3 linked regions of the Homo sapiens genome follow. The protein of the gene in region 1 interacts with the protein of each later gene in a biochemical or structural test. Each region holds a gene or a part of one and is shown on either strand. Other genes may lie near its edges.

Region 1 (3,722 bases):
CAATCTGAAAACAGAAATAGGCTCCCATTTTCATATGTAGGGTAGGTGACTGGAAAGTGCCATCAAGGAAAACCGGAAAACTTATGAATTCCTGAAATCTTTTCATGTATACTATTTTGATCATTCAGCTTTTAAAGACAGTGGGTAATGGCAATCACCATTTGAGCCCTTTCTAAAATAACTGACCACCCTCTGCCAAATCTCCAACAATGGTCATCTTAAAAAAAAAAAAAGGAACATGTCTTAACATTTTCTTTTTTTTTCTTGAGACGGAGTCTCGCTCTTTCACCCAGGCCGGAGTGCAGTGGCGCTATCTTGGCTCACTGCAAGCTCCACCTCCTGGGTTCACACCATTCTCCTGCCTCAGCCTCCCGAGTAGCTGGGACTACAGGCACCCACCACCATGCCCGGCTAATTTTTTGTATTTTTAGTAGAGACGGGGTTTCACCATGTTAGCCAGGATGGTCTCGATCTCCTGACCTCGTGATCCGCCCGCCTTGGCCTCCCAAAGTGCTGGGATTACAGGCGTGAGCCACCGCGCCTGGCCATGTCTTAACATTTTCTAATGTGTGAAGAATCTTTTCAAGACCCTGCTAAATTCATCCATGTAGATACATAGATGTTATTATGCCAGTTTCTCAAATCAGAAAACAGATGCTATGGTCTGAATGTTTGTGTCCCATTCCCCGCCCCCTACCCCAAAGTTCAAATGTTGCAATCCTGAACCCCGAGGCAATAGTATTAGGAGGCAGGGCCTTGGCAGGTGATTAGATCAGGACGGTGGAGCCCTCACGAATGGGATTAGTGCCCTTGTAAAAGAGACCCCAGAGAGCTGCCTTGCCCCTTCCACCACGTGAGGACACAGCTATATGGTGCCATCTATGAACCAGGAAATGGCCCCTCATCAGACATGAAACCTGCCAGGGCTTTCCTTGCCCCTAAACTGTGGGAAATAAATGTCTCTCGTTTAAGCCACCCAGTCTATGGAATTTTATTATGGCAGCCTGAACCAACTATGAAAATAGAGTTGGAGAAAGTGACATGCTAATACAAATAAATTATTAAGGTATCAAGAACAGGATGTCGTTTCTGTCAGGTTAATCAACAGCCCATGGAACTGGCTCTCCAAGTTCTCTCTGCACATTCCCTCCAGGACAATCACAAAGATTCACTCTTTTTTTTTTTTTTTTGAGACAGTCTCACTGTCTCCCCCAGGCTGGAGTGCAGTAGCATGATCTCAGCTCACTGCAACCTCCCGCCTCCTAGGTTCAAGTGATTCTCCTTCCTCAGCCTCCCGAGTAGCTGGGATTACAGGCACGCACCACCATGCCTGGCGAATTTTTGTATTTTTAGTACAGACGGGGTTTCACCATGCTAGTTTTTGTATTTTTAGTAGAGATGGGGTTTCATCAGGCTGGTCTCAAATTCCTGGCCTCAGGTGATCCACTCACCTCAGCCTCCCAAAGTGCTGAAATTACAGGCATGAGCCACCACGCCCGGCAAGATTCACTCTCATGACAAAGTATGACAGCAGGAAAGAATCCAGGATTTAAACACAACAATAACATAGGGAGGCAAAACTACTACTCGTTGCTGAATAGAAAGTGTAGTATCGTTCCAAAGTCAGGTTTTTAAGGAAGACATTACCAAATTATAAAGTTAAGGAGAAGGAAGGAAGAAAGGAAAGGAAGGAGGGAAGGAAGGATGGAAGAAAGCAAGCAAGGAAAGAAGGAAGGAACAAGGAAATGAAGGAAGGAAGGAAACAAGGAGAGAGGAGGAAAGGAGGGAAGTAAGAAGCAAGAAAAAGGGCAAGAAGTAAAGAAAGCCAAGTAGTAGTTTATCTGGTAAGCAGTTAGAGAAAACTCTGATTCGAATTTTTCACACAGGAATGAATGTATTCTGCCAGATTCTACCTTGAATTGCAGGTGGCTCGGCTTGGAGGATCTGACTTTCCCCAGTCATCTGCAACAGTATCCCTGGTAATCAAGCACTTCAGGCCGCCAGTTCCAGACCACGTTGCTTAGCAAAAGATTAGCTCCTTGGTATTGGGTCTGCCTTTGCTTCCCCTCTAGGCCAATCCCTGGCCTCACCTTCTGCCCCGTGGGCCTTCCCTGAACTCCCCTTTACTCACCCTAGATGGTCAATGTGTACAAAAACCATCTGCAGCTGCTGATCACAGCTTTGTCATTATTTTTATGCTGTTTAATGCTCTCAGTGGTGTCATGTTAGCCAGTTGATAAACACCTCTAGGGCTGAAAATATCTTTTCTATTCTCACTTGTATACATTGGAGCCTTCAAACTTGTCACCAAACCTCTTATCAGAGACAAAGTAAGTCCTTTGGGAAATGGGCTGGGGTTTTCACATGACCAGAATACTATCTTGTTAGCCCACTACTACAGGGATTTGGCAGATGATATTCTCATGGTCACAAAAATCTCAAGTAAAATAATCAGTGTGGCCTACATCAGTCTCAAAGACTATTCAGTCCAGTATTTCACTTCCGAGTGGAAACAAAGAATGTGGTCCAAGCTCCTTTGCACTGCTGCCAAGGCCCCGTATGACCCGGCCCCGGCTCAGCCCTCCACCTCCTCACCACGACCCCCTCCTTTGTGCTTCTACACCCCCTGCCTCTGTGTGGAACGCTCATTCCCTCCCTGCCCCTTTCACCCGACCTATGCAGTTTGCCTGTCTCAGCTGAGATTTTACTTCTCCCGGAAGCCATGCCTGGCATACCCTCTCCTGCCAGGTGTGCATGCATCCCCAGTGCTCCCTGCTCCTCACCTGACTACCTGTCCACAATTTCTGCAGGAACATGAACCCATCCCAGCACTGAGCACAGCACAGCACTAAGCACAGCAGGAGGCTTCATTTCATGAGGGACTTGAGAAGTGGGACAGAGGCTGAGTGGAGCAGAAACCAGACGGACAGTAGGAAAAGGACAGGGCAGGTTTGGAGAGCAGTGACTTCGTGTCCCCTGCCTTTCTCCCAACTGTCACAAACCCTGAGCACTGGGGAGATGCACAGCTTTTACCTGACCCTGGAAAAGATTCAAACAGCCTTGATGGGAAGTCAACAGAAGGTGGGCAGTGGTGATAACCAGGTGAAGGCAGAGCTCCTGAGTCTGACTTTCTCTAGGAAGCCTCTGCTGCCCAGAAACAGCAGGCAGTGGCATGGTGAGGGCGTCAGGAAGTTCAGGATAGCTCCTTCTAGAGTGGGCACTACTGAAACAGATGACACGGGGTGGCAATTTTGGTGGCGGCTGGGAGAGAGGAGCCCTGCCTCTGTTTCCTTTTGTCTGCTGGTAACCCAAGTTCAACAAGACTTGTTAGAAAAAGCCAGTAAAACTGGGAAAAGTGGAGAGCGAAGATCAGGCTGAGCATGTGTGAAAGAAAGGAGTGTACGATTATAACACAGTAGGCTTTTGGCGATAGAACCACGATGCCTGGCTCAAACAGACCAGAGTTGGTTACAGGAGCCCAGATGAGACAGCAGCAATTGAGCGGTCATAGCTGACTCTGTCCCAGCCTCCCGGCTCCACTCCATGGTAGTGCAGCCTTTAAAAATTCTTAGCTCTTAGACACTTATCTACCTAACATTCCAATAATTATATATAAACTGGGCCAAGAACCCAAAGAAGCCAAAGCTGGCTGAAGTCCCAAATTGGGCCTGAAACCACAGTTGACAATAGCAACCAGGAACCTGTGCTGCCCCTCTCCCAAC
Region 2 (3,379 bases), on another chromosome or scaffold:
AAAGCCGGCCTGGGCTGGGCCATGTCCAAAGGGCTTGGGGTCTCCTGGGCCTCTCCAGAGTTGCATCTGTCACCCTTGTCTCCTCGTGGCCCCCTTCCCACGCTGAGGGGGGACGGCATGGGAGGCCTGGGAAAATCCTGCTGCCACCTCCCTCAGGTAGACGCCACTGAAACTAAGGGCTTCCTCGGGGCAGAAAGCCCCAGAGGCAGGCCTGAGGGAGGTGCCCAGAAAGGTTGAGGGACATCCTAGTTCTGGTGATGGCAGGGGCTGGGGACAAAGGACAGGCTTGGGCACCCCCTTTCTGCCGTGGCTGCTCCCTGACTGGCCTTTTGGCAGCTACATGTGGGCCCCCAGGGCCTGCCTGGCCATGCTGGTCAGAGACGGTCCCCCGCCTGCTGGCTGCCCTCAGCCTCTTGAGGGAAGGGCACAGGGCATGCTCACCTGCTTCATCCGGTCCAAGTCGAAGGCATCCAGGGCCATGTCATTCACGCTCCCAGCAGGCTTCATCCTGGGAGAGAAAGGGCCTGTGGGTGCCCTGGCTGGAGACAGGTGTGGGGGAAAGCTGGCTGTGCAGAGGCCCCGCTCAGGCTGGGCCCACCTGCTCCCCTCGCTCCATAGAGGCTGCTTGCTTCAGACTCTGGCCACCTCAGACTGCCTGAGAAGGATTTAACGCCCGTCTCCACCTCAAGAGGTCTCCATGGATACCGTGACTGTATTTCCCAACCCGAGAGCCAAGGCTGGCTGGGGTCAACAAAGAAACTGCTTTCTGATCAGAGAGCTCTTATGCAGAGGTGGCAACTTAAGTGACAACATCGCACCCACCCGTTGCCTCCCTGGAAAGAAACACAGTATTGACAGCCTCCTCCTCAGGGTGGGAGCTCATGCTCCAGGTTGAGCTTGGGGCTCGGGGAAGCAGCAGCGGCGGCAGGAGGCACAATGTGAAGTTGCAGAGTTCACACCGGCCTGGAGGCGCGCTCCTGACACACCAGCGCCCCTGGTGCTGGAGCCTGCTCGGGCATAGCACACCTCCCCCAAGAAACATCCTCCCATGTGGTGTCGCTTTTTTTTTTTCAGACAGAGTTTTGCTCTTGTTCCCCAGATTGGAGTGCAATGGCGCAATCTTGGCTCACTGCAACCTCTGCCTCCCAGGTTCAAGCAATTCTCCTACCTCAGCCTCCCCAGTAGCTGGCATTACAGGCATGTGCCACTTTTGTATTTTCAGCTAACTTTTGTATTTTCAGCAGAGATGGGGTTTCACCATGTTGGCCAAGCTGGTCTTGAACTCCTGACCTCACGAGATCCACCCACCTGGGCCTCCCAGAGTGCTGGGATTATGGGCGTGAGCCCCTGCACCTGGCTGGTTTTGCTCTTTCAAGGTAGTTCTCGTGGACTACTTCTTTGAAAAGTTTCCAAACTAAGGTAACCGATTTGAATTTTATTTTTACTTATTTGAGACAGGGTCTCACTCTGTCAACCAGGCTGGAGTACAGAGGCGTATCATGCCTCACTGCAGCCTCAACCTCCCAGGCTCAAGTGAGCCTCCCGAGTAGCTGGGACTACAGACATGTGCCCTTTTTTTTTTCTTTTTTAACTTTTTGTAGAGATGGGGTCTCACTGTGTTGCCCAGACTGGTCTCCAAGTCCTGGGCTCAAGTGATCCTCCCGCCTCGGCCTCCCAAAGTGCTGGGATGACAGGCATGAGCACCGCGCTGGCCTGATTTGAATGTTAATGTGTCACACATGCATCTTCCCTGGAAGATCTTGGCAAAATGCTTGTCTCTCTGGTCTTTTAAACATGACTTGGTGCTGAAAGACACACTGCTGGGACCCAAGTTCCCTCCCACATGGACGGGATGGAGGCTGGAGCCCAAGGTTTCAGGGAAACGTATGTGGCCTGTGCCCCTGGGTGTGATCATGGGCACACACATTTATCTGGCAGGGCCAGCCTTGGCTGCTGAGGGGTCATGGGCACAGAGGAGGACCATCTGGTGACACTGAGGACCAGTGTTGCCCACAGCCAGGGAGAATAAGGATGAAGAATGAGTGTTGCCACACCCCTCCAGATGAGCTCAAGAAAGAGGCCAAGCCTAGCCCTAAACAGGTCTGTAAGTAATTCTGGGTCCTGATAGGCAAACGCATCCAGCCAGAGGGCCCTGGGTCCTTCAGGCCTCTCCTGTGGGTTCCAGACCCTGTTCCAGCAACAATTGCTGGGACACCTGGGCCGACTGCTCCACCTCGCCAGGCCCTGGCCCTCTCCATCTCAGCCCTGACAGCCACCCAGTGATAAACACAGCAGGCTTCCTAAGCAATGTGACGCACCAGAGGGGTGGTGGTACACGTTCCCCTTGAAGTCATCTGAAAATTAGAGAACAGATTTGCCTCAGAGCTGAAGAGAGACCCTATTCCAAGCATGAATGGCCTTGACAATGTTCCTGCCCAGTGAGCGACCCTTGGCCACTCACAACATGGCAGCCCGCCTTTGCTCCACCAGCAGGACGTGGCGGAGTCCGCTGGGAGCGCTGCAGGCTCCCCTTGCTGCCGTGTCTGCTCCAGGGCCCTCGTTTTGCCCACTCTGGTTGCCTTCCCCTTCCCAGCCTCCACCATGGCACCCTGTGCCTCAAGTTCCATGACTGGGCCCTGCGCATGAACACAATGCAAACTTCTAACTCCGCGCTCCCCCACACCCTCTTCCTCACCCTTCCCGTTCCCCTGCCCCATGGCCTGTCTGCTTCCAGGTGGAGGTGCGGGGGAGCTTGGCGGGTGGCTGCAGGCTCAGGGCCCTGGCACTTACCCTTCCTTCAGCTTGGGAGGCTGTCCCCATGATCTCCGCAGAGCAGACTCCTCCTCGTCCGGGTCAACGAAAATGCCAGCTCCCGACAGAGGCTTGCCCCACCCCACTCCGCAAAGCACCCTGTCCCTTCCACCATGTGGCCCTGCACCCTGTCCAGAGCACCCCTCAGGACCACAGTGGCCTTGTTCACACGGTGCTCTTTGCAGGCAGGGACTGTCCCCAGCACACGGCCTGGCTGACCACAAGCCTTGGACAAACCCCAGCTGACTGCTAAGACTTCCTCATCTCTGTCCACCTGCACTGCTCTGCTCTCACCACCTGTTCAGCTCTGCAAGGCCAGTTTCAATGCCTCCTGCTCTGTGATAAGGGTGGTTTCCCTTCAATTTGTGGTGGCGATGGAGACATTCTTGACGCAGGTTCTAGAGGCCTTCCAATTCAGGCCACATGTACCTCCAGATACTATGTGGCTGGCTGCCTCTGCCTTTTTGGGCAATCTCAGTTCCAAATATTCTATCATGTTGTCATGCCAGCTTTTGGCTTGGGAAATATGGTCAGTATGTCTGTGGGGAAACTGATTCTGTGTGCCGGC
Region 3 (3,953 bases), on another chromosome or scaffold:
TTAGCATAGATCTTCGTGCATATACTACTTCATGACCTTTCACTTCAGTGACAGATTTTTAGAAGTGAGGTTTCTAGGTCGAGTGAAACATTTCCAAGTGTCTCAAATTTTATATTTAAACAAAATTAATTTTAGGCCTTGGGAATTTCTGTTCTCTTCATTATGCAAAATTTTGTTATCTACCTTTCACAATGCTTTACATATTTTATTCTTAAAAGCACACACATTATGTCAAAAAATGCCCCTGTCATTTATGCTTGTGTAGTTATAAATAAATAAATGCTTAAGTTATGGCTGTGATGTCCAGTGTTAAATCACTGTGCAAATGCTTATGCCTTGGTTTATGAAAGTAGTAATTCATTGTGGAAACCCCACCCCCACAGCCATGTGGCAGCACTAGAGTTGCAGCCCTCACATCCTGTGACTCCCTCCCACAGAGTGACTATATAGAGATCAGGACCTCCATTTTTTCTAATTGTCAACAGTTAACCTTAAAAAGTGTGTGGTGGGGGAGACAAATAGCAACAAACAACAAATTGATGGCCATTTTGGGTTTCTAATATGGACAGATTATTTGTAACACAATGAATAATCCTCCTGGTCTACACCAGCGACTGTGTTCCAAAAGAAATAAAACTTGTAACCAATATATTGCTATTATTATTACAGGAACCTTTAAAAAACATATCTTCAAACATTTTTCAATAGAATTACTGGATGAATCACACTTTACATTTTTTTCTCTACTTCAGATTCAAGTTCTAATTGCAAACTTAAAAAAAAAAGCCTTAAAGAAATACATTAACCAACGAAGCTCCTTATAATTTGGTTTCAGACTCCTCCATATATTTTAAAGACCTGAGCACCAACAGAGATTGTTAAGATACAGCAAGCTTGATACAGAAGTATGCGACATGCAATTAATCTCCATTCATACCCCGCTCTACTTGTCAGCAAACAAAGGTTCTGCTTTAGAAGGAGATCTGAAGACTTCAATTAAAAACAGTCAGCTAACAAGAAAATAATCTAAGCTAAAGGAAGGTGGCAGGTGCAGAAATGAGTTGTTTACCAAAGTGTCAGTTTTGAACAATGAAGAACTGCACATCAAAAATGCTGAAGGAATGGATTTCATTGCAAGCCTCTGAAAATAAAAAGGAATTTTCTACCAAGCCTAGACACAAAACTGAAGTATAGTTTAATAAGCTTATAAAATAGGTTTCCTCTCATCAAATGACAGATACCAATAAAAAGAATCAGTTTATATATTTCAATGCAAGGGCAGAGTTAAACTTTTTGCCACAGTCCCTTCTTTCCTAGAAACCAAAGACAATTACAGCCTTCCTTCACAAGCCTAATATTAAACCAACAACAGAGGGAAAGGCTGGATTGTTTCTTCTTAGACACCCAGATAATTCTCTTTTACCCTGCAAATAGTTTTCTACCCCCAAAATTTAGATTTATTCTGATCGTAAGTAAAACGGATTTTGGAAACCTCACCTCAAAAGAAATATCTAGCTGACAGCTTTTACATAGAAGCAATCCAGAATGGAAATAGTGCTACAGACAGAGACCAAAAGGACTTGCCAAATATTTGATTAGGAGGCATTTATACCGAGATAACAAGGTAATGGAGATATAAAACCAATTAAATTGAGAGAAACTGAAAAAAAATACTGCTTGCCAAAAATATGACCTGCCCAAAGCAGGCCGTCTGTTAAATATGTGTCAACTATGTCAACTTAGATGCCAAAAGGCTTAATTCTGAATAGTTTCCTCCTGGGAGCCTTATGCGACTGCAGATTCCAGGCCTCTGTCCTCCCTGGAAGGTTAGTTACAGGAAAGCAAGTAAAAGTGACTTCCACCACGAAACCCAGCAGATGAAACTGCCCGTTAGCAACGTCTCTTTGTGACATCTCTTTGGAGTGTTGGCAGTGTGTGTTGAGTGTTGACGGGGATGGCCGGAACTCTTTAAACCACCGCTTAGACACTGTAGTTGGAAGGTGAACACACCACAATGGGAGTTGGAAGGTGAACACACCACAATGGGGGCACTTCTAGAAAAGGAGGAAATCCCATACTGAGAATGAGCCTGCCTTGGGGTGGGTGAGACCCCTAGACGTCTGCAGGGTGATAAAGGGAGGGCTGGGGTTTTCGCACTGACAAAAACTCACGTCAACCACCTGGCCTTGGCCCATGGGGATCCCATGAGCCCCTCGCAGCCCCCTGGAGAGCCTCGGGGACCTCTAAGCAGGAAGGTTTGGGGTCTTCTGTGAGAGGTGAGGAAGTCGTGGCTGGGGAAGGAGGGGGACGGGAAACCCTACAGATGTAGGGCAGTCCTTTGGAGAAAGGGACAGGTCGGAGACCAGGCAAGGTGGCATGGGGGACCAAGAACCTGGCCTGAGGACTTTAGAAGCCGGGGAGGTGAAGTGGAGGCGTGGAGGTGCCTCAAGGCAAAAGAAGATGTGGGACTCCAGGGAGTGAAAGGGGCCCTGAGGTGAGAGGATGGAAAGCTGGCTCTAGGGAGTTGAGGGCTCTAGAAGCCTTAAGGTTCTAGAAGGAGGTGAGTGACGAAGCCGTAAAGAAAGCCTGGCCGTGGGAGGCCTGGTGTCCCCTTTCGGCCTTCGGCTCAGCACTGGAGGGGGCCTGCGCCAGGGCGTTACCTTCCAGGAGCCAACGGATCTCCTCAGGGAGGGCGGCGGCCTGCATTTGGCTGGGCGGGAGAGAGGCGGGACGGGGCGCGGGCCCTGGTCGGGAGGCGGACGGGCTGGAAGGCGACCCGGCTGCACCGCGAGGCACCTGTACCTCAGCCGCGGTCGCCGCCCGCCCAGCCCGGCCGCGGGGCGGGGCCGTGGGTCCCCGGGCGCGTCAGGAAGTGGCGCGGGCGGCAGGCGGGGACCGGAACGGGGCGCGGGGCGTGGGTGCACGTGGCGCTCACGCCGGAGCCCCACGGTAGAAGGATTGGGGGTGCCGGAAGCACCGCACCGTGCGAGGCCAAAGGTGCGCCCCTCCAGCACCCACCAAAACAAAAGACTTCACAAGGCTCAAAGGACCCACGGCTTTGGACACTCCATCCTAAGCACCGAACAGTTGACCTCACGGTGGCAGATTTGAAAGACCACGGGGTGCCTGAAGTAGGGTGCAGGGAGGCAGAATCCAAGGAAGAGATCCCCGTCAAGCATAGCACCCCTCAATTGCCGGTCCAGTTCACATCTCCATCCCCAGAAAAGAGGGCAAAACTTCGCTCTTTGGGAAGCCACAATGTTGAAAGGAAATGATTAATTCCCAATAAGCAATATAAGGACACCAACATTTGGGAGAATCGCGGCAGCGTGGCAGCAAGGGACACAGGAAACCAAACTGTGCTGTTCTCCCTCAGGATGGAAAGGCCCTGAGGAAAGGAAGGGGTAACACAGGGAGAAAGCTGAGGGAGAGGAGAACAGAGCCCTTTCCCTCCAGGAGCTGCGGAAGGGAGGAAAGTGAAGGACAAAATCACACGGTCTCATTCAAGGGACAGTTGGTGTCAGTGTCCTGGTTGTGACATGGTACTGTAATAGTGCCAGATGTTACCCTTGGGGGAAACTGGGTAAAGGTAGACAGAGTTCCTCTATTATTTCTGAAACTCTCTGTGAATCTATAATTCTCAAAATAAAGAGGTTTTTTAAGTACAATAGGTCAACTGCCATGAAAAAAGTATAAAGTGCTATGGTTGATAAAAGAAGGGAGCTGAATACCAGAAAAGGAGGGAAGAGGCCAGGCATTGTGGCTCACACCTGTAATCACAGCACTTTGGGAGGCTGAAGCAGGAGGATCACTTGAGCCCAGGAATCTGAGGTTACAGCCAACTATGATCACCCCAGTGTACCCCAGCCTGGGCAACAGAGCAAGACCCTGTCTCTTAAAAAAGAAAGAAAATAAAAAGAAGTGCCAGTGTGCATGTGAGTGTTTAAAGGTGC

Evidence for each region.
Region 2: the proteins of LYN (region 1) and EVL form a complex in vitro, tested with the Homo sapiens proteins (one study listed by BioGRID).
Region 3: the proteins of LYN (region 1) and SKAP1 form a complex in vitro, tested with the Homo sapiens proteins (one study listed by BioGRID).

What each region holds. Positions count from the first base shown.
Region 1 is NC_000008.11:55,994,628-55,998,349, reverse strand, and holds part of LYN (tyrosine-protein kinase Lyn), read right to left. Parts: intron 5-3,722; coding exon 1-4. UniProt on the Homo sapiens protein: Non-receptor tyrosine-protein kinase that transmits signals from cell surface receptors and plays an important role in the regulation of innate and adaptive immune responses, hematopoiesis, responses to growth factors and cytokines, integrin signaling, but also responses to DNA damage and genotoxic agents.
Region 2 is NC_000014.9:100,138,309-100,141,687, reverse strand, and holds part of EVL (ena/VASP-like protein), read right to left. Parts: exon of another isoform or gene 2,791-3,379; intron 2,355-2,790; exon of another isoform or gene 2,324-2,354; intron 509-2,323; coding exon 442-508; intron 1-441. UniProt on the Homo sapiens protein: Ena/VASP proteins are actin-associated proteins involved in a range of processes dependent on cytoskeleton remodeling and cell polarity such as axon guidance and lamellipodial and filopodial dynamics in migrating cells.
Region 3 is NC_000017.11:48,427,415-48,431,367, forward strand, and holds the start of SKAP1 (src kinase-associated phosphoprotein 1), read right to left. Parts: upstream 2,801-3,953; 5' UTR 2,707-2,800; coding exon 2,661-2,706; intron 2,519-2,660; exon of another isoform or gene 2,196-2,518; coding exon of another isoform or gene 2,172-2,195; intron 1-2,171. UniProt on the Homo sapiens protein: Positively regulates T-cell receptor signaling by enhancing the MAP kinase pathway. Required for optimal conjugation between T-cells and antigen-presenting cells by promoting the clustering of integrin ITGAL on the surface of T-cells.